4 linked regions of the Homo sapiens genome follow. The protein of the gene in region 4 interacts with the protein of the main gene of each other region in a pairwise test. Each region holds a gene or a part of one and is shown on either strand. Other genes may lie near its edges.

Region 1 (7,027 bases), on a different chromosome or scaffold from region 4:
AGAGCTTACTTTCTAGGATATAGTTCCTTCAAAAAAATAATTTAAAATGTTCTTAAATTCAAATCATTAAAATAAAATGAAAAAAAGCTTTGTTTATATACTATAAAAACTCATTAGAATAATTAACTTATCTTGCTATGAGAGATAAGCCTATCACTTCAGAACTGCTTAAGGGCAGCAAACATTCTTATTGGTACAAGGGGAAAATTCTTTGACTAGCAAAATCTTTCAGGTCTTAATTAAAAAAACATTTAAAACATTTATGTCTTGACCATAAAGCTGGTCGAGACAATTATGGTCACAACATGTTCCCTGTGTGATAATACCATCTGAGTTTTATTAGAACTATATCATATACTTAACACAAAGATAAGTTATTCCCCAAAAGTTAAAAAAAAAAAATTCTACACCAAAATCGAAATAACCACCATGCATTTTCTGGTTATGGAATAAAAATTCAACATTAAAAGAATAATCTCATAGTTAAAAACACACTTGGTCCTTCCTCTTACATTTAGTTTTATCTTTATTAAATGTCATTTCATAATTTAATTGAACATAAATTCCTAAATTATTTATAATAAATGAACATACCTTCAAGGGATAAAATTGCTTCATTGCCATTTTAATACTTATCAAGTTCTCATGTATCAAGTGTAATAAAAAACTACAAATAAGTAAACACCACAGAATGAGGAGGAGAGATGCATGTAACATCTAAAATAGAATTCATCAATGCTTACCTCCCCATGTACTTGCTACCTGAGAAGCAGTTGACATAGGATGTACAGATGGGTGAAAAGTTGGCTGCTGCAAATCAAGCAGATCATTGGGCAGCTTTGATGTGCTAGAAAGATATTTTGGAAACGTGTTTTATTTACCAGAAAAACTTTGCTACTTTAGTGTCACCTTCTCCACCCACCACAGATAAAAACATTAAAAACAAGGGAGAAAAGTCTCATTAATATAAATCTCAAAAGAGGAACAGTTTCTTCATATGACAGCATATTTCTAAGGAGGCTTGGAAAAATAATCTAATATCATATCTTAAGTTTATATAAGATTCAAAGAACAGTAGCTCTTCTGAAAAGGATGAATGTCTTCCCCTAGAAAAAACTAATTTCCCTATTAAAATGAACCTAAACAACAAGATTCTAAAATACAAAATATCACAGCAATTTTAATATTTTTAATAAAACTCTTTTCTTACTTTTAATATTCACAGAACTTGAATCACATTTGCAATACACTACACAGTAAAATACTCATTAACCTCACTTCTAGTGCCTCAGTGTCCAAACTATGTATCAATGATACAGGGAAAAAATTTTACATGCATTTATGAATAGAGCCACCCCATCACACAACACACTATTTACATGATATATTTCTTTCTTCTTTTTTTTGAGACAGAGTCTCGCTCTGTCGCCCAGGATGGAGTGCAGCGGCGTGATCTTGGCTCACTGTAACCTCTGCCTCCCAGGTTCAAATGATTCTCCTGCCTTAGCCTCCCAAGCAGCTGGGACTACAGGTGCGCAGCACCGCATCCGGCTAATTTTTGTATTTTTAATAGAGACAGGGTTTCACCATGTTGGCCAGCCTGGTCTCAAACTCTTGACCTCAGGTGATACGCCTGCCTCGGCCTCCCAGAGTGCTGGGATTACAGGCGTGAGCCACTGTGCTCAGCCTCTTTTTTTGTTGTTGTTTTGCTTTTTTTGAGACAAGAGTCTCACTCTGTTGTCCAGGCTGGAGTGCAGTGATGTGATCTTGGCTCAATGCAACCTCCACCTCCTGGGTTCCAGTGACTGGCATGCCTTAGCCTCCCAAGAAGCTGGGATTAAAGGTGCATGCCACCATGCTTGGCTAATTTTTGTCCTTTAGTAGAGACAGGGTTTCACCACACTGCCCAGGCTGGCCTCGAACTCCTGACCTCAGATGATCCACCCACCTGAGCCTCCCAAAGTGCTGGGATTACAGGCGGGAGGCACCATGCCTGGCTTACATGATATATTTCTACCTCAAGACTTCTATGTAATTTTTTTTATTTGAGACAGAGTCTCGCTCCGTCGCCCAGGCTGGAGTGCAGTGGAGCGATCCTGGCTCACTGCAAGCTCCGCCTCCCGGGTTCATGCCATTCTTCTACCTCAGCCTGCCAAGTAGCTGGGACTACAGGCGCCTGCCACCACGCCCGGCTAATTTTTTATATTTTTAGTAGAGATGGGCTTTCACCGTGTTAGCCAGGATGGTCTCGATCTCCTGACCTCATGATGCGCCCACCTCAGCCTCCCAAAATGCTGGGATTACAGGCATGAGCCACCATGCCCGGCCGACTTCTATGTGATTTTAATGAACAACTCAAAACATGACCCCAGAGTGTCTAAGAATTCAAACACAGTACAGATAATTTTTTTAAGAGAAGGGGTCTGGAGGCTGGGTGTAGTGGCTCATGCCTGTAATCCCAGCACTTTGGGAGGCTGAGGCGTGCGGACTGCTTGAGTTCAAAAGTTCAAGATCAGCTTGGGCAAAATGGCGAAAAAATACGAAAAATAGTTGGGCATTGCGGAGTGCGCCTGTAGTCCCAGCTACTCGGGAAGCTAAGGCAGAGGGAATGCTTGAGCCCAGGAGGTTGAGGCTGCAGTGAGCCATGGCTGTGCCACTGCACTCCAGCCTGGGTGACAGAGTAAGTCACTGTCTCAAAAGAGAGAGAGAGATTGAGAGAGAAACAGACAAACAGACCAAGAGATGTTGCCCAGGCTAGCTTGTACGGCTGGGCTCAGGCCTTCCTCCTGCCTCAACCTCCTGAGTAGCTGGGACAACAGGCACACGCCACCACACCCAGCTCCTAATTTTTAACTTATATATTCTCCAAAATAGAATGTTTTTCTTTTTAAATGGATATACAATAATTGTACATATTTATGGGATACATATGATATTGTGATACATGCATACCATGTAATTATCAGGACATCTATCACACCTCAAACATTCATCATTTCTCTGTGTTGAGAACATTCTAAATCTTCTAGCTACTTTGATATAGGTAATACAATTGTTTTTAATTAGTAATTCTACTGTGCTATCAAACACTAGAACTTATTCCTTCTAACTGTATTTTTATAAAAAAGTTTTGAAGACATGTCTTTTAGATGTACAATAGTTGTGTAGATAGTAGATATAAACGCATTTAGTGCTTTGGGGAACATATAGAATATACAATAATAATTCTGTAAATGGGCTGTAAGATTTGCCCTTAATTACTATTAAAAAGGTGAAAATTTTTAGTATGTGACATAAAACATAGTGAAATTAGTTCTTTATCCAATAATTTGTTTCAGCCTCGAACAATGAACATTCTTTTCACTTCTTTCTCCTAGGACAGACTTCTTTTCAAGATCTCCATGTTGAGAACTTGCCCCTTAATGGGGTCAATGTTACTTAACTGGGGATTAAAGAAGGTAGCATACATGAGCAAACAAATCATAAAGCTGAAAGAAAAAAAAGAACTAAATTCAACAAACACCTACTAAGATTTCAGGGAGCAGGTAGCAACTGAGCATGCATACAGCAAGCAGTTCACGTAGTAAAACTTACACTGAGCTATTAGGCTCAGCTATTAGGAGTCAGTAGGCAGGCAGATGAGCTTTTAAGGGTGAGTTAATAAACAGCAACAACAAAGTGAAAGGAAAAAACTCACCACTCTCTATGGAACATTTAACATGTGCTAATAATGCACTGTGCTAAAACCTAGTCACCTGGGAGCATCTTAAAAACAAAAATTCTTGGGCCCCAGGCCCCACCTACTGAATCAAAACTCTAGGATTGGGACTCAGATATCTGTAGTTTAATAAACTCTCCAAATGCTTCTGATGTTAAAGTTGAGAACCACAGTCTCATCTGAAAACAAGGTTTCTCAAAAAAAGTTAAGAACTAACAGAGCCAGGATTCAAACCAGAATCTGACTTTTAAAACTACTTTAAGCCACTCTGAGGTTCAGAAAATGCCAATTGTTTTACTTTACCTGGCAATATTATATTTCCATGTTAAGTAGCTTAAATTAGACAACAAGATTATTAAAGTTAGTCTGGTAGGCTTCAATACCAAGAAACCTGGCAACTAAACTCTGTCACTGTGTTCCAGATTACAGAGTTTAAAACCAGGAAACAGATATGACAGACGTTTAATATCTAATGAAATGGTATTTTGAAATATATATCATATCCATATGTCAAAGAGCTATAAAGGGTCTTGAACCATTAGATGCCTCATAAATGTGTTTAATCATAATTTTTACACAATGAAAAGTTGGCCCAGAGATAACAGCTATATTCCTATTAGTATAAATCAGTGATTTAACTATCTTCCATTTCGTAAATACGTAAAATATAAACTCATCACTTTATCTTTAGGTATTATACCAATATCACCATTTATCGCCACCTCTTTGTGTGAATAGATTATAAAAGCATAAATAAAAGTAAACCTGAAAAGTTCTGCAAAATTTCTATTAGAAGTCTTTGAACCTACATATTCAAAGGTAACCTTAACTTCTACTCCTACCTGTTAGAAGAACTAGGGGTAGAAAATATGTCAATGGCTGGTGCAGTCATTATCCCTCCTGCTGAGGTGGATACAGGAGAGGCTGCAGTTGTTAAAGAGGTATGAGGTTTCTTTGCAAGTTCTTTTAGGCGCTGTTCCTGTTAAGAAAGGGAACTACCATAAGGATTCCAGAAACCAGATTTCTTTGTACAGCCTCTGAAAAAAGCATTTTCTAATTTGTTCTGATAGCAGATATTCTGTTTTACCTAATTCTATGTCAGGACGAAAAGTTAGACTGAGTTTCAGCCCATTAGGTAGCTATACATTTAAGACTCTAAGTCTGTGCAGAGGCCCCATTTACCTAATGAACACCTGTACTCATTTTTCGAAATAAGGAGAATGCACAAACTTACCTTTAAAGCTTTCAAACGTGCCTGTTCTTCCTCTAATGCTGCCTGCTTTTCCCTTTCATCCACTTTGGTCAGAGATAGACCAGTGCTTGCCAGGGAAGACACTGCATTGGAAAGTGTAGTTGCCCTAGGATAATTGAACAGAGATAATTTGGCTTTTTGCTAAACACTTCACATTACACCCAGGTCATGAAATGGTCTGGCAACCTTGCCATGGATAGGCACTATAATTATAAACTTAACTTCTGGATTCAAATCCAGTACTTCAGATGAAATATTCTACCTAGTGATCTACAGGATTAAAGCAATTAGAAAAATCTTGACTTAATATACACTCACTGCTTTCAGAGTAAGTGTTTGACTTTGGAAAGGGTTCACAACAGAGTGGGGCACATTGCCTCTTCCAAGCCCCAAGAGAGGAAACCAGTGCAATTGGGAAAGAGCCCACATAATCCCACAAAATCCCTGATGGGAAAAAGTGTTGAGTTTATCACAGGGAAAACCCTCTGCTAATTTACAGCCTACGTTTCGGCAGTGCCACAGGAACACCAAAACATGCATACCAGTAACACGTAACGTAAGTCTAGGTATGTTTCACCTATAACAACATCCCCAGAGGACTTCAGGTTCCTTCAAAAGAAGACTGGTTTCAATCTAGTCATCAGGCCATTTGGCATCTTTCTATGTGCTGCCCTTTTGCCAAACCAGAATTTCCTTTTTAATATACATGTACAATGTATCATTTTTCACTGGCAAGGCACCTCCTTTCCCTTTTATCAAAAACGTATCCACACTATAAACCTCAACATTAACTTTCCAAATGTTAACTCTAGGCTAAGTAAAACAAGTGGTAAAGAATTCTAACCTGAAGAACTACCTTGAGCTTTATTAATTTTCCTTTTACCACACACCAAACATCATTAGTTTCTACTCTTAAGCACGTAAAGTGGTAAAAACTACCTTTTAAATTTTATGTAATATTAGTATTATAAATAAGCCAATAAAAAGGTACAATTCAGAAGACAAAGGAAGAATAACATAGTTGTGACAGAAATGCAAGAAAACCAATAAATTTTATGATAAACATTTCAGGTAAATTGGTGCACCTGAACTACGTGGCTCTTTTTTTCGTTATTCTCTCAAATAAATGAGACTTATTGTTTTGACTGCTACTTCGAAAATCTTACTAGAAAATTCAAAGTACAAATCTAGGATTAAAAATGAGTACTAAAATCCAATAACGGCATTTCCCTTTGGAAATTATTTAAATTTTATTACTAAAAGAAAGATCAAAAGTTCTGAAACAACCAGAAAGTCTAAAAAGAACCAAAGGAAGGTTCTCACTATACAAATTCTTTCTTCATGCTGTTTTAAAAAAAGGTTCATAAGAAAACATGAGAATAACTCAAGTAATTTCTTAACCCAATACAAAAATCATGTTACCAGACTGATATGAAATGATTTCTGTTACTTTCAATTTGCTAGGTTAAATGGTCTTAGTCTGAGGAATTAGCTTAAAACATAATAAAGTGATTAAAATATAAAATATCAATAATCAACCCCATGAACTGGCATTAGGCAGAGATGATGCAATTTGATGTCAGATATTCTAGGTTTGAGTCCCAGCATTGCTACTACATACTTCACAGGGCTATTGTGAGGATTGAGCAAATTAATACGAAAGTATCTTGCAATTATAGGCCTGGCACGGTGGTTCATGCCTGTAATCCCAGCACTTTGGGAGGCTGAGGTGTGCAGATCACTTGAGTTCAGGGGTTCGAGACCAGCCTGCTCAACATGGTGAAACCCTGTCTCTACTAAAAATACAAAAATTAGCCGGCCGTGGTGGCATGCATCTGTAGTCCCACCCTTGGGAGGCTGAGGTGGGAGAATCGCTTGAACCCAGGAGGTGGAAGTTGCAAGTGAGTTGAGATTGTGCCACTGCACTCCAGCCTGGGCAATAGAGTGAGACTCTGCCTCGGGGGAAGAAAAAAAAAATGTATCTTATAACTACAAAGCACCACATAAAACAATGCATTAGCATCTTTAGGAGAAATTTTGACATCATAAACACAATT
Region 2 (7,027 bases), on a different chromosome or scaffold from region 4:
CTCCTCCTTCGCTTAGAGTTTATAAAAGCCAGCAACATGATCAATAATTTATACACATGGAGAGTAATACAAAAAAATAAGGAATAAAAGCTAAAGATCTAACTACTCCGACCTTCACAATTCCAGCTACTTGATAATAATAGGAGTAACCCAATGAATACTGTATGGTCTGAAAGCTACTATACAATATGATTCTTAACGAGAAGGGAAGGGAATTAGAGACTGTCACAAAGCCCTGGGATGCTTCTCTGGAGTTAGCAGGGAAACAGGACCCTGGGCAAGCAGCTCGGGTGTCCTAGGAAGTGATTCTGGGGGAGGACGGGAGGGGAGAGAGAAGGCTAGGTGGTCGATTACACAAGCATCCCATGTAATGCCCCCATGCCCCAAAGGTACCTGTTTTGCCATGGCAATGGGAGGGGCTGGAGGAACAGCATGTTGCATGTAGGGATGGTCCGGTCCCTGCCATGGGGAGTGGGGAGAAGAGGAGAGGTTCTGTGGCATTTTGAGCCTTGCAAAGATTTGGACTGAAAAGCTCAGAGACTCAGGTAGGTCAGCCTGTCAGGGACAAGTACACTCCACCGGCTCTCTTCTCGCTTTGCAGCCCTAGCTTACGCGTGTCAGCCCCAGGTTTGCTCCAGCTATTCACAAGCAGAATATAACACAAGAAAAACAATTCATATCCCTTAGGGAAAAAAGAGGATCAATTCATCACTCAATATATAATACAGCCAAAATGAGCTGCCAAAACAAGCACACACACAAATACTGTGAACAGAAAAATACAAGAAAATGACTAAGCTGGGAGTCTTGACGGGGTATGGACATTGCTTAAAGCACTTATCAGTCCCCAGAAAAACCAAACCAAAAACATTTTTTAAAAATTCAGAAACTCATGTACCCCCTGGGAAACTGGTGTTGGTAACAAAGGGCAGGGGGTGGGGAGAGAAAAGAGAATCACTGCTCCCTTTTTGCTCGCCAGTGTGAGTGGAGTCCTCAGGTCACCGGCATGTACACAAGTACCAGACAAGGAGGACCAAGTCCCTCTGCTGGTGGCCTCCTAAAAGGCAAGGCTTGAGTTTTGGCTGATGAGCAGTTCTCTCCGTTACCAATCCCTGCCAACCAGCACTACCATGGCTGAATTGATCTACCGTTTTCCTGAGTAAACTGTAACTGGCTACAGTTTCGGTAACATGGAAAAGAACTCAGCTACTACAGCCAACTGCAATACTTCAGGAACCCCCTCCATCCCTGGGCTCCTCACTCCTAGTGCATCTGATTGAGGAATCTGATAACTTGCTGCAGTCTGGTCTGTTAGCCTCATTTGCAAAGAAAGGTGCCAGGGACTCTATTACACTCACTAAACCAGAGGGCACACGCTGGCTTAGGACACCCAGAGCCTACTTGGAAAGGGCCCTGTTTCATGCTCTAGCTCTTGGATGGCTATTGCCTGGCTGATCAGTAAAGCAAGTATGAAGGAAGTACATAGGAAAAGGAAAGGGAGGGAAGAGGCTTTTGGACAGTAACATTTCCAAAAAAATATAGTGTTTTATGCAACAGAGAATCAAGTTTCACTGTGTATACTACAAATGGTCAAACATTTTCAAGAGCATGACAAAATAAAAACACACAAATTTACGTCTGATGTTCACCTTGCCCACTATTTTTTTTTCCTATCTTAAAACAGTGCAAACAGGTAACTTATGCTTTTAAAACACCACGACCCCTTCCCCACCCCCCAAAGTCCCTTTCCTCCTAGTATCTGGGGGAAAATCTGCAATTCTGCAAATGTTACTGCGCTAGAGGTTGCAAGCAGCGGAGAACTGGCTGAACTTGGCAAAAGGCAAGGACTGGTCAAAGCTTCCCCTTTCTCCTCCTTAAACATCTAAGTGCTTTCCAGTCTGTCCCTTGGTTGGCCTTGTTCTCCTGCCAGAGGGAAGGGGGTTCATCATGCCCTTCTTGCATATCCTTGGGGTTGCTTCCATCCCTGTTTGATGTCTCCCTCATGTCTGGAAGCTATATAACTAGTTACAGGATGGTAGTGATTAACCCACTTATCTGCTAGATCTCTAGTAAAGCATAATTCTAAGCTAAGAGCAGTTTAGCCCCTGAGGAGTCACACATTTGAGGAAAAGCTGCTATCGATGACTTCTATTGTCTAGATTTCCACTAGCTCCCCTCAGACTAAAAGTTGTGCCCCAGTCCACTTCTTTCTCAAAGAAAAAAAAATGTTGGCTCAATTCAGACTGTGGCTGTTGAAGGATGATGGTGATAGTAGGTTTTGTTAAACCTGAGAGCCTGACAAATGGTGAATCACAATGGCTGATCTGAGTTAATGGAAATTGAACTAGGTGACATGAGGAATTCTGGAAAATGCCTATGGGCAGCTCTCTGGGCTCTAAGAGGGACATGGAGATAAAGGTGTTCACTAGAGGCCTCCTTTAAGGAGCCCAGCTTCCAAGAGTACAGAAAGTCCAGGTCATGAACTATAGTAAAGCTGAAAAAGAATCATGCATGTACTGTGATTTAGCATCAGTAAGTTTTCTGGAATTATCAGCCAGCATCCTCTAACAAACTCACGAAATGCCAGACTCCTCTGACTCTCTTTTTTAATACAGTGAGAACCAGAGTCAGGAACAGACAAGCAGTGCTGCTTCGAGCAACCTGCCTCTGGTGAAGTTGACCGTACGGAGTCTCAAAGTTCAAAAGGTGACGGGGAGGTTGATACTGTGAAATCCAGATGCTTGCAAGAGCCCCAATTCTCAGTGTTGACACTGAAAACCAAAGACCCTTTCATAAAAAGCAGAACTCCATTTATTCTTTCTTAGAAAAGGGAGCTGGAGGAAGCGGTGTTAAACACCATCCCTGGAAATGCAGCAGAAACCACTGGAAAGCACAGAGCTTGCCTTTGGAGGCCTCAGCCAGAACCAGCTGAACTGAGATGCACTCAAGGTGCCTCAAGCTCAAGATTCTGCCTCTCTTAAAAGGTCTGTGGGAGCCGCCTTCTCTACCTTTCCCATTATCCTTACCTCTTTCTAGGAAAAAAGAAGAGAAAAACTCTTAAACTCATTCTCCTATTCTCCCCTGCTATGGATAAAACCATTTAGAATTTGGCCTAGTCTCCACTGAATACGTGGCTTGCCATCTTTTGGGAATGGCCCCTTTGTGATCATGACCCCAAACTTCTGTTTTTTTAGTCAGCTAAAGTTCTCCCTCAAAGCAAAAGCAAAAGCAAAATCCTCCCTGCCCCCATTCCCTAGAACTGTGAAAGCCCGCATCCCATTCCCCGCTCCTCTAACTAAAATATTTATATACATACAACAAAAATTGTCTTAACAGCAACAAACCAAACTTTGGCTTGGGGTGGGGGGACCCTTAAAAATGGCCAGTGGACTGGGCAGTTGGTGTCCCCTTATTCTCTGTCTTCCTCCCCAGAGTCAGTAATAATTGCATCGAGGCCTCTAGCTTCCTTGACATCGCCCCTAGTTTCAGGCACAGCCTCTCTCCCAGTTACGAGGCGAGACAGGATTCTGAAGGGGGAAAGGATATGTATTCTACACAACAGGTCAACGCCCTCTCAGATATATCACTCTGCTTACAAAGAATGCTTGATGCTGTCATAGGTCAGTCATTTTAATTCAGGGACATGAGTCAGTTATCAGTCAAGAACATGTGTGGAGGCAGGAGTTAAAAACAAACCCAAAACAAACCCATAACCAGAAGCTCCATGTCTCTGAATTACTCCCTTTAGCAGCTGTCCCTTGGGTGAAAGGTCACCCTAGTACCAATGTGACTAGACCAGGGAGCCAAAAAGACCGTGCTTTTCTATTTCCTAATGCCTTCATTTGGGAAATGCTGTAGGACACTTGCTTTTATCAGTTCTATCTAACAGCTAGAAGAGAAACACTCCCTCCTACCTTGATAACATAGAAAATTACAGCCAGATGGCAACGGCAGTGACTCACTGCGCGACTCTTTCTGGTGATATAGAAGACCCTTGCCATCGCAGACCCTCCTTCCAATATGGGAGGGCAGCAATCTCAGGGCCTCTGCATTTTATGTCCTGTAGTGTTAATGTGTACAAAGTGGTCCGGGTGCTCAGCGGGGTGTTTTTGGAGGACAGTGAGAAGCTCAGCGGGATAGCCACAGGCTCAAGACTGTGGATAGAGAAGTGACTCATAAAGGCTCTGGAAGATGAAAATTCCTATGGCTTTGGAGCAAGTACAAAGTGCCTCTGCCTGCCCTTCCATGTCCTCATCACCAAAACTTCCAGGGACTACTGACCTAGGACCTGGTACTCTATCTTTCCCCAGCAGATTCTTTATTCTATTTTTTAAACTTTGTACTTTCTGAGGCAAGAAAAAAGTAAGAAATACCAGATCTTCTAATATTCCTTTTCCCTTCCTCACCCTCTTTAATGGCTGTCAACAATTTGTACTTCTAATCCTCAAGACATCTGGGGGAAATCTGGTCACTGGCTTATTCACTTTTCTGTCCCTGGGTCCTAAATTCCTGAATCTTATGGACATGAGAGCAGGGTGTTAATAAAAGAATACATGAGCTAAGCTGTGGTTCAATTAAAGGAGAAGAAGCCTAGAAGGAATGCTAGGTTACAGGAACAAAAAGAAATGATCTTTTTCATACTCCAGAGTTCATTCTGAGATCGGTTTCCTAATGAGGTGTTTATTATCCACTGTCTGAGAGCACGTTTGGAAATATCAATACTATAATTCCAAAAACTATGCCAGCTGTCTCAGGCTGTGCGTGTAAGATGATTGTAAAAAGAACGGAGAAGACAGGAGGGAAGAGGAGAGGAAAGCGTCTTTTTAATTCTCCTGCTTTGTAAGCACAAATTCCTATCTATCAGCATGTGGATTCCAGCCACAGCCAACCAGAATTGCCTGTCAAAGACCAGAAACTCAGAAGACTAGAAGAATATCCTGTTGCAGAAAGATCTCTTCCACTTCTGCTTGTCCCCCAGTCATTCAGCACCAGATACACTTTGGTAATTCTGTCTGCTGATTTCTGATCAGATGCATTTATCGGCTCCTAATGTCTCTCCTTCCTCCTTGACTGCCTCTTCCGTGATTGATAGAATAAGCTAAGCACGGACATACAGACATGGAAATGCATTATTTTTTTTTTTTTTACCACAGTTTAAAAAAAAAAAGAAAAAAATGCACAATCTTTGGAACAAAAGAATTAAAGGCAGAAATTTAAAGGAAAAATACATATTCAAAGAACATAGTGAGGTATAAAAAAGTATTCTTTCTTTTTTTGTGTTTTTTTTTGTTTGTTTGTTTGTTTTTCCTCTTCATCTTGCTATAGAGTTCCTCTACTAGTAAATATTGCAATAGCCAGGCCTCATGAACTGGGGGGCTGTCCCATTTGCAGGGGTCTCACGTCACTTCAGTAGGGGGCAAATCGGCTGTAGCCACCTCGGTATAAACTCGCCTGCAGTAATTAAAGAGATAAAAATAATTAAAAGGTTGATGAGAGAAGCATTAACAGTGAAGAAAAATGTCCAGAGAGGGATCTAGAAACAGCCTGCTTCGAAGCCTCAAAGCAACTGATCAAGCATTGCCTTGTGCAGTGAAGTCAGGAAACCAACTTCTGCTTCTAAGGTGCTCAGACCAGAGCCCAACACATTTATTGCTGACCTGATATTCTCAAGGAGAGTATGACGACATTTTATTTCATTATTTACATGAATTAGCACAGAAGGGAAACAATACACAGTTGAAAACAAGTTCCGCAAAGAGTTTGATTTTTAAAAGCACAGGTTTTTGTTTACCTTGATACAGCCTTATAATCCTGGTGGAAAACAGATCACCAGTTTCTCCTTCTCACATATGACCCATCGGCAGTGCACGTTACTTCTGACACGATCCCTGCCATGTGTGGTCACAGCCCATGTTTGAGATGGTGCCACATCTAAACCTGAGCCAGTCTTTAATAAAGTCTGTTTCCTCTATCATCTACGAAGCACACCAACTAGGCTGTTTCTTGACATATTCACATTTACATATCTAGCTGGGGTTTTAACTAGGCTTTATTCCTTTATGTTTATCAAATGACTTTATCTAATGGCTTATCTCTTTCAATTAGAAGTTTCCCAGGAATGCATCTTTCTCAGGTCATTCTTTTAGCATAGGACTTATATCATTTTAGGACGAAATACAACCTCAGGCACTTCTACCACTGCCGTTATATTGTAATGCTCTACTTCATTTATAAACATATATTCCCTCAGGGCCCCCTATTACTTCCTTCCACAAATCTTCATCAGTAGAAATTTGGTGTGAGAAGTAGCTTTCTCATATTCCTTTAGGTCTTACATTTTACATTTCATTCTGTCTCCTTTTCAAACAACTCTACCCATGTCCAGAGGTAGTTGCCCAGTTGCATTTTGGATTAGAGAGAAAGCCCTGGCAGAGGTGTCACTGTGGAATGGCCTGTCTTTGTTGCAGCCTGTGAGTCCTAATCACTGAAACTGGAGGCATCCAAGCCAACACAATAATACTGCAGTGAGGTGGTTGGTCAGAAGAAATTATGCTAGTTCTATGGACTTCTTCGATACTTCTATCAACAACACCATATTTTGCCACAATTGTTATCAATAATCAATAATAAAATATCCTATAAAGCATTCACTTAGGAATTTCTAGTACTATCTACCAGAAGGCTTAGGAAGAGCAGAGACATCCTTTAGATTTGCATTTGAAACTTAAGTTTTTGAAAAGCTTACTGTGAATACTACAGCCTTATGCTCCATGCTCCTTTGCCAACACCTATCAATGAAACTATGCCACAGGTATGCACTCAACATTTGAACCAATAGAAAACATTCACCAGTTCCCCTATTTCTCTCGCAAATCATGCCACTACTCGGGGCATATTATCAATGATCATTCCTTTCTGCTGCCCTTAACTAGGCCATGTGGCTCACATTATAATAACACACAAATAAAGAGGGTGACATGAAACTTCCAGGTAGATCTATGTGGCTTTAATACCTTGATGGTGGATG
Region 3 (7,027 bases), on a different chromosome or scaffold from region 4:
ACCCTCTCTCACCTTTGTTTTCCTTCTATGTCATTTATTTGTTGAAGAAACTGGATCATTTTTCCTGTTGTGGAATTCCATATTCTGGGTTTGGCTGATTATATGTTTCTCTGTCTCTCTTACTTTCCATGAACTGGTGGTTAGACATAAAGACTTTCAGAACTGATTGGTAAGATATACATTTATTTCCATTGGATTGGAAGTCATAATATCTGATTATCCCCTTTTTTTTTTTTGGTCATGTTGAGATTGATTATAGTAGTTCAGCTGTTGTAAGTCTATTCCACCCATAAAGTTCCTCAGCAAACTTTAACCTAATGGTTTTAATAGTCATTGATGATGTTTAAATCCATTTCATTAAATGCTGCAAAATGGTGATATTCTAATTTTTTAAATTCTAACTTCTGCATTCGTTAGCTGGAGTTTTTTCTACAAAGAGGGACTTTGCCATATCAGCTATTTGCTTCAATTGTAATATGTAATGAAAAGGCAGGATTAGGTGCTTGTTTACTCATTTGCAGAATAATAACATTCCTTGAAAGTGACCAGTGGGGTTTTAGGGTTTTTGTTTTGTTTGCTTTCTTTTCATTTTGTTTTATTATGAGATCATGGTTTTTGTTGTGGTTGTTGTTATTGTTGTTGTTTTGTATTGGTTATATTTTAGTCCACTCAGTCCACTAATATCACTTAGTTTTTATTACGGAAAAATTTCAAACACTCTCAAGTAGACAGAGTTGCACCATACAGTGAAACCTCTTATGTTCATTCTCTAACGTCAACAGTGATCTTAACATTCAACCAATCTTATCTTCATCTATACCTGTACTCCAGCCCCACTTTCTTCTGCCCTTATTTTAGTTTGATGCATATCCAATCAGTGTTCAAATTTAAAATGGTCTAAAATATTTTAAAAATCAGATTGCTTGAATCAAAATTCAGATCTACCACTTAGTACAGTTTATATTGTGATATGTCCTTGAGTATAATCTATGGACACCCCCTCAACTCTTGCAATTTATTTAAGTAAGTTGAAACATTTAGTCACTAGAGATTTCCACGTACTAGATTTTGCTGATTTCATTTATTTGGTATAGTTTAATGTATTTTCTGTAAATTGGTAGAGTCAAAAAGAAATAGAGCGTGGGCCTAGTTGGAAAGACAGATTTCATTCAGTACTATTGCAATAGGGGAAAATAGAACCAAGTTCCATTTCAGAATACAACAAAGACACTTGGGGATGAAGCAGAGTGAGAGGGTCAATGGATGGAAACTTTCTAAAAGGAGACATCAAAGGTAGAAGGTTTCTTTCTGACCTGACTTAGGATTCCTGCTAAAGGCAGGCCAAGGTGATCATAGATCCAGAGTGGGAGATAGTTTAGGAGGATTCTTACTATATATAACTGAGCTAAACAGACTGATGACGGGGCTCAAGGACAAATACTAGTTGATTGCTCAGAGCAGCCTGCTTAAAAGTATGGTCAAGGAGAGAATCTTTAGTGTAGAATGGTGATCAGATTTAAGTTTGTTGTCCTTTGGTTCTTGTTTTCTTTCTGAAAAGCAAGACCTGCTTCAAAGGTGGTGGTGTGCTCTCTTGCACTAGGAGGTATATTATGTCTTGTATTCAGGCTATTTGCATTTCAGATTACACAGTTTTATGTAACTGCTTTAACTTTGTGTTTGTACTGAATATTAGTTTCTTGATGGCAGAGAACATATTTCACTTTCAGAATGTTTTTCTGCTTACATGGATTTATTTTCAAGAAATTTCATACAATACTTTATTTAGAAGAAAGCAGAATTTTCTGAAATCACAGTATGCAGAGGCATTTACCATCAACTCTGACAAACATCCTTCTGGTCCCTTTTCTATGCATGTATTCTGTGGAATTGGATGCAAACACATATTAAAAATATATACATTTGCCTAATGGAACCACAGCATACAGAGTATTTTATAGTCTGCTTTTCCATTCAGTGATATTCCAGGAAAATATTTTCTTATCAGTGTGTTTAGATACACATCCTTTCAATAGGTCATCATTTAAATTTCTACTGTCTAACATTATTTTAAAAGTAAGTTTTTCTCTAATAATCAGCACCACATTAAACATACTGTGTAGCTTTCACTTTAAAATTATTTTTATGGACATTTGATATCATTAGCTTGACATTATTAATAACAGTTACCTTGACTTTTTGATATCATCTGTACTGTCTTGGAAAGTGAAAATATTTGTCAAACTGTTAAATGATAAGAAAGAATAATTATACACTGCCAAGCAGAATTTCCTTCTTTTGCTCCCTCCCCACCTTCTGCTCCAATCACATAAATAAGAGCTGTTTTTTCTTTGCAGTATGCATTGCCTCAGGAACAAAGGTGGCTCTGTTTAATCGACTACGATCCCAGACAGTTAGTACCAGATACTTGCATGTAGAAGGAGGTAATTTTCATGCCAGTTCACAGCAGTGGGGAGCCTTTTTTATTCATCTCTGTGAGTATAAAAGTGTGCATTTAATGTTTTTAGTGTGAAATTGTTAAAATCTTTTGATGAGATACATGGATATATTAAGTTTTGTCATTTGCCTAATCATAAAATAAATTTAAAAAGATGACAATTTGATTTATTTTTCCACCTACTGCAGTGGATGATGATGAATCAGAAGGAGAAGAATTCACAGTCCGAGATGGCTACATCCATTATGGACAAACAGTCAAACTTGTGTGCTCAGTTACTGGCATGGCACTCCCAAGATTGGTATGGCTCTACTTTTGCTTTAGTGATAATGTGAAGTAAAAATTAATTTCTTAAACAGGAAAATCACAACATTCAAATGGAAAAACACACCTCAGTTTTATGCTTTTTAATTTTAAAAGGTATGTTAGTAATCAGTGCTGTTTATAATTGACAGTTATGCTCTACCTTATTTCAGAAATGCTTTAAGGTAATAGCCAGTTTTTACAAGTACATTCTTAATGATTTTTTCTTAAATGATTTCCAATATATTTTGGTGGCAATTTCCTTTTTGGCTGTTTATCTGAAGATGTTCAGTAGAGGGCACTATAAATTACATTTCTTTTCTTTACTAATGCGGATAAACCGTATTCATTTTTTTGTGGTACCTGCCATATCCCAATGTAGGACCAAGTTTGCAAACAGAAGACATTCTTATTTCTTTTGAAATATAAGCGTAATTTTTGTTAGCTTACTCTCTCACAAGAAGATAGATTTATTAAAACTGAAATAAAATTGGTATTTCTAACTGGGAGCAGGGCATAGGATTTAGGGCTTTTGTTCAATAGAAGACATTGAAACTCGGCCACGCATGGTGACTCACACCTGCAATCCCAGCACTTCAACAGGTGAAGGCAGGAGAAGGAGAAGTGACTAGCCCTGGCATCACTTGAGCTCAGGAGTTCGAGACTAGTCCTGGCAACATGGTCAGACCGTCTTTACCACTGACCCCGCCCCCCCAAAAAAAAAATTAGCCAGGCATGGTGGTGCACACCTGTAGTCTCAAGCTTAAGTGGGAGGATCACTTGAGCTCGGGAGGTCAAGGCTGCAATGAGCGGTGATCGTACCACTGGACTTTAGCCTGGGCAACAGAATGAGATCCTATCTCAACAACCACAGAAAAGGAGATCTTGAAATTGTAAAAACTACTTTTGTTAGTAAAATGAAAACAAAAGTCCTCTATAGTGCCACCACCCTCCCAATTTTCCCTCTCCTTTTCTCAAACAATATAATTTACTTATATTCAAGATGAAGGGGATTTATGAGTAAGTTTGATTCAAGGTCAGACTGAAGAGGTTGGGTGAGTAGAAGAACATTTAGTATTAATGTTCCTAAACATGCCTCCTATTTATCTTTTTGGTGCAATATTCCACTGGCTTATATTTTCTGGGGTCATTTCAGCAGAGGCTGGTTTGATCTACAGTTTTCTAAGCCAGTGATTCATTTCTTTGTTACTGTTTTTTTTTTTTACCCTCTGTCATGATTGTACAAGGTGATTTTATTTCCCATGTCAATGCAATAAGCTAGAAGACATGAAGTATAGTAATAGTAATCTGTAAAGCTTTGCAGCTGAGACAAATTATAATAAAAAGGGTAACGTTAGGGAATGAAGGGCATGAAAAACAGAGCAGGAGACAGAAGCAAGCAAAAAATCTGAATCAGCATTTATTCATTTTTTTTCTCTTCTCATTCATTTCCTCTGTTCCAAGGATGATGTTCATTTGCTTTGGTGTTAAATGCTTGTACTGCAGAAGCACAACTTAGGAGGATGATTCTGATCACCAATAGTTTATAATACAAACCACTTAGAAGACAGACCCAAATTTAAAACAATGTTTTCATTTACAGTTGTTTGTAAAGTACCAGTAGCCTGCCTTGCTTGAAAGTCATTAATTGAGGTTTTTACACTCAAAACTGTATGGCTTTATATAAAAATGTTGCAATGAAAAATTAACTTATTAGAAAAAGTTGCAGTACCATTATTAAGACGCTGATACATAAATCTTTCCAGGGGTTTCATGACAGGAATTCTGACATGCAAAGTCGAGTGCCTCTCGTCATTGAGTTTACATTTTGATAGAGTGATAAGCCAAATACCCATGTAAAGGATTTATGTAGTGATGAAAAAACAAAACAAGATAATAAAGGGATAGAGAATTGGAGGAGCGCTTAGAGAGGTCAGGGAAGTCTTTTTGAAGTCGCAGTATTTGAAGAGAGCCCAGAATGAAGTCAAAGAACCGGTAATTGAGTGAGGAGCATTTCAGGCAAACAGAACAAGTACAGAACTGAAGGCAGGGGATGTATGATGACTAGTAAAGAAACCAGTGGAGCTGGAGCGGAGGGAGGAGAGGTCAAGTGGCAGGAACTGAATCTGTAAGGTTAGCACTAAGCAAGACCTTGTAGGATCCCTCTCTGTATCTAGGGTAAGGACTTCATATTATCTCTGCATGTTAGAAGGCCACTGGAGGATTTTAAACGGGGCACGATGGCCTATTTTTGTTTAGAAGTATATGTGTGGCTGCTGTGTGGAGAAGAGAGCATAGCAATGCGGCCGTGGAAGCAGAGAGACAGGTGCTTGGATTGTTGTCATAATTGAGGCAAGAGTTGATGCTATCTTAGACCCAGGATCATAGTATTAAGGTGGTGAGGGGTGACTGATTTGTTGGAAAGTGGACCTGACAGAATTTGCTGGCAGATTGGATGGTTGGGTGTGAGAGAAAGCAAGGCATCAAGGGTGACTCTTAAGGTTTTTGGATTGAGTGAATGCTAGTGCCATTTATTGACCTAGATGAGTTGGGGAAGGATCAAGTTTAGGAGGAAATCCAAAAATCTGTTTTCGATATGCTAAGCTTGAGGTGCCTGTTAGACATCGTAAGTGGAAATGTTGAATAGGTAGTTAAGTGTACATACAAGTTGAATGCAGGAGAGAAGTCTGGAGATAATAAATTTGGGAGTTGTCAACCTTTAAATTTTTAAACAGTATAGATTATAAAGAGAGGAAAAGAGGGCTGAGAACTCAGCTCTGGGCATTTTAAAGGTCAGTTGGAGCAGTTGTGGTCCTGAAAGCAAAATGTGTTGAGAGCTTCTGAGAAAATGAAGTAAAATGAGGACAGAAAAGTGCCGTGAGATGCATCTGTCTGGAAATCCTTGGTGGCTTTGAAAAGCAGTTGTAGTGGCGTCTTTGAGATAAAAGGTTGGAGAGATTGCAGGAGATTGGACAGTGAGGAAGAGGCGTTTGCAGAAAAACAGGTAGTGAGAGGGAGGGACAGGAGCATGTAGTCAGTGTTTTCTTTACTTTTGATTTTGAGATGAGAGATAGTTATGTTTGTATGTTGTTGGAAGTGATCAATAGAAAAGGAAACAGAGTAAAAGTTCTGTGTCAAATTTTGCTCTTCATCATGATCATCTACTTAGCCATTACCTTCTAGGTGTCAAGTGTCATATAGGGTTTGATAGTATTATCTTTCAGATATTCATGTGTTTTGTAGACTAGTTGCGTTATAAGCTTTAGAGATCAGTTGGACAGGCAGCCAGCCCTGGGATCAGGACATATTCTGGTCCTTCAGCTACTAAACTGGTAATTTTGAGCAATTTGTCTGACCTTTCTAAGCCCATTTTGTAATCTGTAAAATGAGTTTGATTTTGTTATGTTTTTAAATACGTAAGTTTTGGATAATAGATATAAGACGTTTGCACTGACAGTAGCCTTCTAGAGATTTTTCCCTTTGATGTTGGAGTATTTGTCATTTTATGCATATTATTGGAAAATATCATTAGAACTTGCTGTTCAAAATATGGTCTGTAGGCCAGCAGCATTAACATCAACTGGGATTTTGTTAGAAATGCAGAATATCAGGCCCCACAAGAGTCCTGCTAGATCAGAACCTGTGTTTTTCACAAGAACCCCAGCTCATTTATGTGCACATTAATGTTTGAAAAACACTGATCTAGAAAACAAGTGCCTGCCTGCCTGATTTTTTTTTTTTAGATGTTCAGGGAAGAGGGTAACAGTTTCTACATTCTGACATGCTTGCAATCTAAAAGTGTTTTTTATTCCTAGTCTTTTTGTTTGTGAATGTTTTTATATATGTAGGCATAGGACAAATAACTGTGATGTATTATTATGCAGTATATAGCTTCTATGTACTTTTGATGTTTTACACAAGGAAAATCCTTTCCATGTGTGGATGACCTTTTATTTCTTAATTGTTAAATATAGATAATTAGGAAAGTTGATAAGCAGACCGCATTATTGGATGCAGATGATCCTGTGTCACAACTCCATAAATGTGCATTTTACCTTAAGGATACAGAAAGAATGTATTTGTGCCTTTCTCAAGAAAGAATAATTCAATTTCAGGTATGTTTTTAAATTACTGGTGAAATCTAAAATGTACAAACTGTGAGGTTAGCAGCTTGCAAAAATATGAAATTTTCATTTGCTGTTAATTATATACAAATACATGAAGCTATACACAGATATTTATCTCAGGTATGAGCATCCTTAACACACA
Region 4 (7,027 bases):
AAAGACCCAGATGCTTATTTTATTATTGCATAATGTGGGAGACCTTCCCTACCCCAGGAAAGCTGGAGAGTGAAGGCTTCCCAGCAAAGGGCAAACAGGTTCCTGATCGACATCCAACCTAATAAGGTTCAGCTCCTCAACTGTAGTGTACACTTTTGCCCATCTGGAAGGTACTATAGCTTCAGTGTGGTTTAGTAAACTTAGCCTAGGAGGCCAAGATGTCTCCCTAAAACTTAGTCTCTGTCCTATTTACTTTGTTTATAAGACTGTGACCTAACTTCCCATGGCCAATTCAATCGACTAGGTTATCTTTACTCCAATGGACCCAGGCCTTTTCCCAGTCAATCCATGTCCAACCCTTCATCTCCAGCGTGATCACTCAACTCTTCAACATGCCTGCTTGCTGCAGGTTTAAACCACACCACCATCCTGTGCTTCCCCCTAAATCGCCCATGATGCCCGCAGGTAAAAATAAAACTAAACCCCACTTGAGGTGCTATTTCAGCCAAACTTTAAACCCTCTCCGAACTCCAGAATCCACCTAACTGGAGCTGGACGAACTTCACTGGGATGCTGGCATGGGCCCTAATGTGGTTCCCTTCATTTAGTTTTTAAAACAGGATACAAGATACCACAAAGGAAAGAAGTTAATACAACAGAAGACACCACTAGTAGAAACCTGCTTGTTTCTCCCTCAAGATAGTCAGACATTTGGAGCCAGAGGGCTCCCAACAGCACTGAAGCCTTATCCCTTTGGATTTACCAGCCCACCAGCAGCATTTCATACCATCCCTATCGAACATGACTTCGCTATAAAATAACATGGCCTAACACAGGTAAGAATGAACCGGACGCCTACACTTAATCTACATGGCCAAAGACATGGAAGGATAGGGAGCTGTAGAGGACAGCAGGCAGGACAGTGAGCGGACAGCAGCAGTGGCAAAGCAGCGCAGGGCAAAGCCCTTGGTGTTATGACCAACTGGGACCAAGAATATAGAAGGACCAGCCCAGATTGGCTGGGGGCCCTCCCTCAGGTACAAGTACTCAGCTCTGAACTCCCAGAGCCCCTTCCCCCCATGCCACCTCTTCCTCATGTATACTAATCTTGATAGGAATGATTCAAGACTTGGCTTATTATCCATCCATGACTGGGTTCCCCTATTCCCAAATTGGTATACACATTTTTATACAGCGCCAGACAGTCAGCAGTCCTCCTTTCTATTCCTAAGAGCTGGAAATGTCCTACTGCTGACAAGGGACAGGCTCTGGCCCTTGTCAACTGCTCATTCTTAAAAAGTTGGCAACTTCCCACTAAAATACTCGCTAAAAACTGCTCTCATGTCTCCTGCAAACTCAGGAAATTCCTATAAGGAAGAATGGACACACCACAGGTTAGTCATATTTTTCATGCCTGGAGGAAAAGACTAAACTAGAGGTTAAAGGCAAGGGGGAGGCCACAGCTCTGACCGAGATTTAGAGCACAGAGATTCTTTTCCTGGGGACCATATTTTATGACAGATACCTTTGCAGCTCAGCAAAATCAAGTATTAATATGTTATATATGCATGGAACGATATTGTGGTATTACAGGAACTGCTGGTATTGCTTCACCAGCAAGAGACAGCAACAGAAAGGTCAGGGCCCAACTTGCCAGGGTCCTCAAGAATTTCTCTTTCCAGAATTCAGTGGAAGTTACCAGGTTGGAAAGTCACAAGTAGCCCAAGTGGAAGGTGATTTGATCTAAACTAATTGGTCTGTATCTGGTTAGACATAGGTTTGCCCCATAAGGAGAAAGCTCAGCTTGTGTCCTTGCAGACACTGCTTGAGCATCTACTGTGTACATGTCACTAAATTCAGTTGATGAGCCTTCCTATGAGGAAGGACGCTTGTGAGAAACCCATGCAAACAATGAACTCTAGGAATGAGTTGCTCATGAAACAGCCAGAGATGAGGCCTTCTCCCAAGGCCTTCTCATTTGAGGGGATTCCTCAAGACTCAACCCCACAGGCCCCCACTGTAGGAAACAAGCCAGAGAAAGCAGCATTCAGAGAATGGGGGACAGAGAAGGGGAAAGATATGATCCCAAATGCAGTACAAAGTTGGCGTCTGGTTCTGACACAAACCAGATACTGAAGCACTCACGGTCAGGTCAGCAACCTCCTTTGATGGACCCCCAAAAGCTGACTGACCAGGCAAACTGCTTTCAAGGAATGAAAGAGTGGAGGGTAGGGCTTGTAGCAAACAAGCCAGTTTCAGTCACTCTGTTCCCCCAGGAGAACAACCTTTAGCACCTGAACACTAAGAATGACTCCATTCTCAGAACTTCCCCTCCCCCCAGGAGGTAGGTAAGATTATTTATCCCCATTTGGCAGGTGGGGAGGAAGTGAAAGAGCCAGAGGTCACGAGACTTGCCGAAAGTCCTTGACAGAGCAGAGATCAGACCTCAGAGGTTTGGACTCCTGATGCCAGGCCAGGTCTCGGCCAATCCAAGTATACCTTATAAAGGACATGCCAGGATCATAGCCTGGGAGAAGTCTAACCAGAGAGCTGCGTGGACAATACCCTGAGTTGCCTTCAAGAGTCTAAAGACCCCCAAAAAACAAACAAAAAAACTTACCCACCTGAAAGCTAGTGGGGGAGCCTAATTCCCAATACCCAGTGGAACCCCACGGTCTGAGCTGATGCTAAAAGTTGTGAAGAAAATGTGGGATTAAGACATTGGTGGGGGGTAGGGGGGGTGCCAATGCAACCAAGATTGAAAATACTTTTTGCAGAGGAATATACCAACACAAAATGACATCTATTCAGGTACTGAAATGTTATCAAGACTATCCTAGAATCTTAGAGCTGGTGGTGGGAGGGGATGGCTTGGAGGCACCAGAATGCTGGGAGAAGCAGTGGAATAAGACAGGAGGGGCATATGGGACATGTGAAAATGCCATGATGGGCACTGCCCAGCCACGCATTCGCCCTGGCCCAGGGCATAGTTCCCTTCTTGTTTCTTCACCAAGCTGTTTGGCAGTGGAAGTGGAGGGGACATGATTTTGAGATTTTAAAAATAGAGATTATAGCTGAAGGGGAAACCAGAGAGACCCCCTACCCACCAAAAACTAGAGGTCTTGGTCAGAGTGGACAAAACCAACTTTGCAGACAAGGAAAGGCAGTGCAGCTACAAATGAGGCCCAGGTCACGACACCATGCAGCGGTCAGCGCAGCAGGAGGGTGGGGGTGGCGCAGGCACTTGGGCACAACACAGACAAAGGTGGGGGGTCAGTGCCTGGGAAAAAGGGTCTACTAGTTCTAAAGTCACCATTACCAGCAAGATTCTGTGAGATTTCAAAGTGGGTCTGGCATGCTGAGATGGAGGAGCTTTGTTAGGTGAGCTACCTTTCCAGAGGGCCTGCCTAGAACCCAGTCAGCCTGGCTATCAAGTCTTTCTCCCAAAGTCCCCTGACTGAGTCCCTGGCAAGGTAGTACTTCACTCTGAACCCTGAAGGGGCTCTCCCTCCGGGCCCCCGTGCTGCTAGAAGCCTTGTAGGCAGAATGGTGAGGAGAGATGGGGAAGGGCTATGAAGCAGAGGATCAAGCAGAGTCCTGCAGATGAGAGTGCTCCTCCCCCACACACCCAGCCATAGACATCTGGAACAAAATCACCCTTTAAAGTGCGCATCTCTCACAAGAAGGGTTCTGGGTGGGAACCCTCTTATTTCCAACCTTGGGGCCTCCTGCCCTTCTACCACAAAAAAGAAAAAAAACTTCTGACAGTTTAACTGCTACTATAAGCTGTGGATCATCATTTTTGGCTCTTTCTTTACTCCCTCCCTCTGCCATCTGCTCCCAAAGCCTGGACTTTCTCTTGCAGGAGCTAGGGATGGGGAGGAAAGAACAGGGAGGCCCTGATTTTGGAATGTTTCTTCTCCTGTGTGCACCCCCTTCCTTCCTTGCCCCAGGCCTGCTGCTCCCCATCACAACACCCTCTGGGGTTGTCCTGAAAGGATGCCATGGGGTAATGAACAACAGATCCTGCCTTGGGAGGCTGACTTCATGCCTCCCCTTTCCCCCAAATCTCACTGCCAAGAAAGCCATTCCCTGCTCGGCGTGTGCAAATCCTCTGCCTGCTCACGGCGGCGAGGCGAGGCTCTGGGGTAAAGCCCCAGTCCTGGTCTGGGGAAGAGGTTCATTTTCCCGCATTGGAACGCCCTTCAATGGACAGCTTTACCTCCTGTGGAATGAAAGAGGGACGGAGCAGCGCAGCCCGTGCCTCCTCCCCTTGCATGCTGTATCTTTGGAAGCTCGGGGCTGGCCAGCAGGCCTGAGCACCGGACTCAGGCTGGGAAGGCTCTACCACACGGGAGCCCTCTCCTGCCGGCTGGCTCTTCCCCTCACTGTCACATAGCTCTCTGGATCCCAAGACCGTCCTCTCAGGCCTTTCTCGGGGGGGACCCAGCTGGCTTGGGGGAGCACAGCTGGCCTGAGAAACTGAGTTACTGTTCAAGCTCTGTAAACTGATAGAGATGCAGACATCTCCCACCTGTAGCCGATGGCAGGGCAGAGAGAAGAGTTGTGTCGTCCGCCCAGGGCTGCAAGAGGACCAACCCTGGCCATATACAAAGAAGGGGTGCTCGGGGGGCACTTCGATGCTCACTTTGCTCTGCTGCTCACCAACCACAAAATGCAGCATGACAAATCCAGGCCATTGGCTCTCCTGAATGTCCACGACCGTGCTAGAGTCAATCTTCAGCCCCCCGCTCACTTCGGCACTGCGCACAAAATCCTGGGTCTGGAGGTCCTCCACCCGCTTCAGCTCTCCCGTAGCCAGCTGGATGATGGCGCCTTTCATGAAATGGGAAGGCAAGTGAGAGGAGGTAATGGGGGGCGGCGTTGGCTCCTTGTCTGGGAAGGTGGCTCTGGCCTGCACGTCCAGACTTGATGCTACCAGGATCTCCGAGCCCACAGGCAGCAGGCCTGAGTCAGTTCCAGTGGGCACCAGGTTGCCATTGGCTACAACCATTGCTTTGGGTAAAGGTCTATGTTTTACTGGTTCCTGATGGGACTGAGGGTAGAACCCACGGGCCTGACTTTTCTCTGCCAGCTCTGCAGGGTTCCTGGCTGACCCTCGCCCCTCACCCTGATGGTCGGGGGTATGATGGGATAGGTTGAGGGGGCTGGGTTCCTCCTTCCTCTGAGCTGCCACCACACGATAGTCCTGAGAAGCTAAAGCGCCAACCACCCGCTGGACCTCAAGGTCAGTGTCCGGGGTCCCCCGGTGTGCTGGTGCTGCTACCTCTACCCGTGGAGTCTGAGAACCTGAAAACAACTGTCCATCCACCACACATTCTACCACTGGCACCAGTCCCTGGCCTTCACCCTTGCTGTTGGGGGAGTCAAGGGCTTCACTTTCCCGTCTTACTAAATTTCGCTCTCGTGGTCTCTGTCCTCCATTTGCAGCAGCTGCTTCCAGAGCAGACTGGCTCTCCTGAGGGGTAAGAACTGGGCTGGCACCTGCTGGAGGGGTTTCATGCAAAGTATACCCAGCAGGTAGCCTGGACATCTGATAATAAATGGGCATCCGACCTGGAGCAAGGTCCAGCGGCTGAGTACTTGAATGATGTGGCAATTGCCCAGATGGGGAGGTGGCAGAGGGAGCTTTGTTAAATGAGTGGGCCGGGGAGGGAGCCTGTGGGGGAGGAGTGGCTCCTTCAGCCAGAAGTGAGGCATATGGCACAAAGTGTGGAAGGTGAGAGGTGGCAAGGTTGGCAGAAGGAGATAGGAGGGGACTCGGTAGGAAATTAGGTGGCACAGCATAGGGAAGGCTATAAGGAGACCCAATGAACTGCAGCGAGGTGGATGGGAGCTGAGCATAGTGGAGTGGAGGATAGTGGATGCCTGGATGTTGAATTAGTGAAGACGCTACATTAAACGTTGGGGGCAAGGGACTCATATTCACCACAGATGGGAGTCCAGTTGGTGAAAAGGTGGCAGGCGGCACAGCCACCTTATACAGCATGCCATACTGGTCCACTGTCAGACCGGTGATGGCCTCAGCTCCATCACCCCCCAGGCTGACTCTGGCTCCTGCCTGGCTCTGCCCAGCCACCACAACCCCTCGGGACCATTCAGAAGCATCACTGGAGGGTGTGTGGTTAGTGGAGCAGCTGGTAGTTCTCCCCATATCCTCGCTGGTCACGGGGAGGTCTCGTTTCTTTGGTGGAAGGCATTCCTGACTCCTTTCATGAACAGGTTTCATATTGCTTTGTGGTGTTCCTGGAGCCTGGAAGGAGTCGACTTGCTCCCTGGGGCATCAGAAGGGGCTTCTCTGTAGCTTCCCTGTACCCCTCTCTGCTTCTGGCTGGGGCGCCCACATCTATTAGGGAACAAATCAGAGGCAAAGAAAAGTAACCTAGGGATGAGCCAAGACAAAGGAAATAGAAAGAACTGTGCCATGGAGGAAGATGTAACAAAGGGGACTGTTAGAAAATAAGGAGGAAAGAGAAAGGGGCAGACAAGGAGGCTACCCCCAACTCATCCAGCCTGGGACATGAGAGAAACAGTCGGGGAAATCACAAGGCACAAAGAGCTACAGGGACACGCATTCACCAATGCACAAATAACCTGTGGGCTCCACAAGCCCAGGGAGACCAACAGCTTCACGGTTAGTCATGTGTCTCATAAGCACCTTGTCTCTTTTCTGCCTTCTTCCCAAAGGGGGCTTTGAACACATGGTCTTTCCTGCTGGCTCTTTTGCTTTTTTTTTTTTTTTTTTTTTTTTTTAAAACACATGGAGTTTTGCTCTTGTTGCCCTGGCCACAGTACATGGTGCAATCTCAGCTCACCGCAACCTCGCCTCCCGGGTTCAAGCAATTCTCCTGCCTCAGCCTCCCAAGCAGCTGGGACTACAGGCATGCACCACCACGCCTGGCTAACTTTGTATTTTTAGTAGAGATGGGGTTTCACCATGTTGGCCAGGCTAGTCTCGAACGCCTGCCCTTGGGTGATCCGCCCACCTCAGCCTCCCAAAGTGCTG

Evidence for each region.
Region 1: the proteins of ATXN1L (region 4) and PICALM interact in binary tests that used the Homo sapiens proteins (3 or more experiments, as listed by UniProt).
Region 2: the proteins of ATXN1L (region 4) and RBFOX2 interact in binary tests that used the Homo sapiens proteins (3 or more experiments, as listed by UniProt).
Region 3: the proteins of ATXN1L (region 4) and RBPJ interact in binary tests that used the Homo sapiens proteins (3 or more experiments, as listed by UniProt).

What each region holds. Positions count from the first base shown.
Region 1 is NC_000011.10:85,996,083-86,003,109, forward strand, and holds part of PICALM (phosphatidylinositol-binding clathrin assembly protein), read right to left. Parts: intron 5,077-7,027; coding exon 4,953-5,076; intron 4,698-4,952; coding exon 4,561-4,697; intron 848-4,560; coding exon 744-847; intron 1-743. UniProt on the Homo sapiens protein: Cytoplasmic adapter protein that plays a critical role in clathrin-mediated endocytosis which is important in processes such as internalization of cell receptors, synaptic transmission or removal of apoptotic cells.
Region 2 is NC_000022.11:35,738,799-35,745,825, forward strand, and holds part of RBFOX2 (RNA binding protein fox-1 homolog 2), read right to left. Parts: intron 5,452-7,027; coding exon 5,407-5,451; coding exon of another isoform or gene 5,397-5,406; 3' UTR 1-5,396. UniProt on the Homo sapiens protein: RNA-binding protein that regulates alternative splicing events by binding to 5'-UGCAUGU-3' elements. Prevents binding of U2AF2 to the 3'-splice site.
Region 3 is NC_000004.12:26,421,988-26,429,014, forward strand, and holds part of RBPJ (recombining binding protein suppressor of hairless), read left to right. Parts: intron 1-2,354; coding exon 2,355-2,492; intron 2,493-2,643; coding exon 2,644-2,756; intron 2,757-6,732; coding exon 6,733-6,873; intron 6,874-7,027. UniProt on the Homo sapiens protein: Transcriptional regulator that plays a central role in Notch signaling, a signaling pathway involved in cell-cell communication that regulates a broad spectrum of cell-fate determinations.
Region 4 is NC_000016.10:71,848,964-71,855,990, reverse strand, and holds part of ATXN1L (ataxin-1-like), read right to left. Parts: intron 6,368-7,027; 5' UTR 6,251-6,367; coding exon 4,181-6,250; 3' UTR 1-4,180. UniProt on the Homo sapiens protein: Chromatin-binding factor that repress Notch signaling in the absence of Notch intracellular domain by acting as a CBF1 corepressor. Binds to the HEY promoter and might assist, along with NCOR2, RBPJ-mediated repression.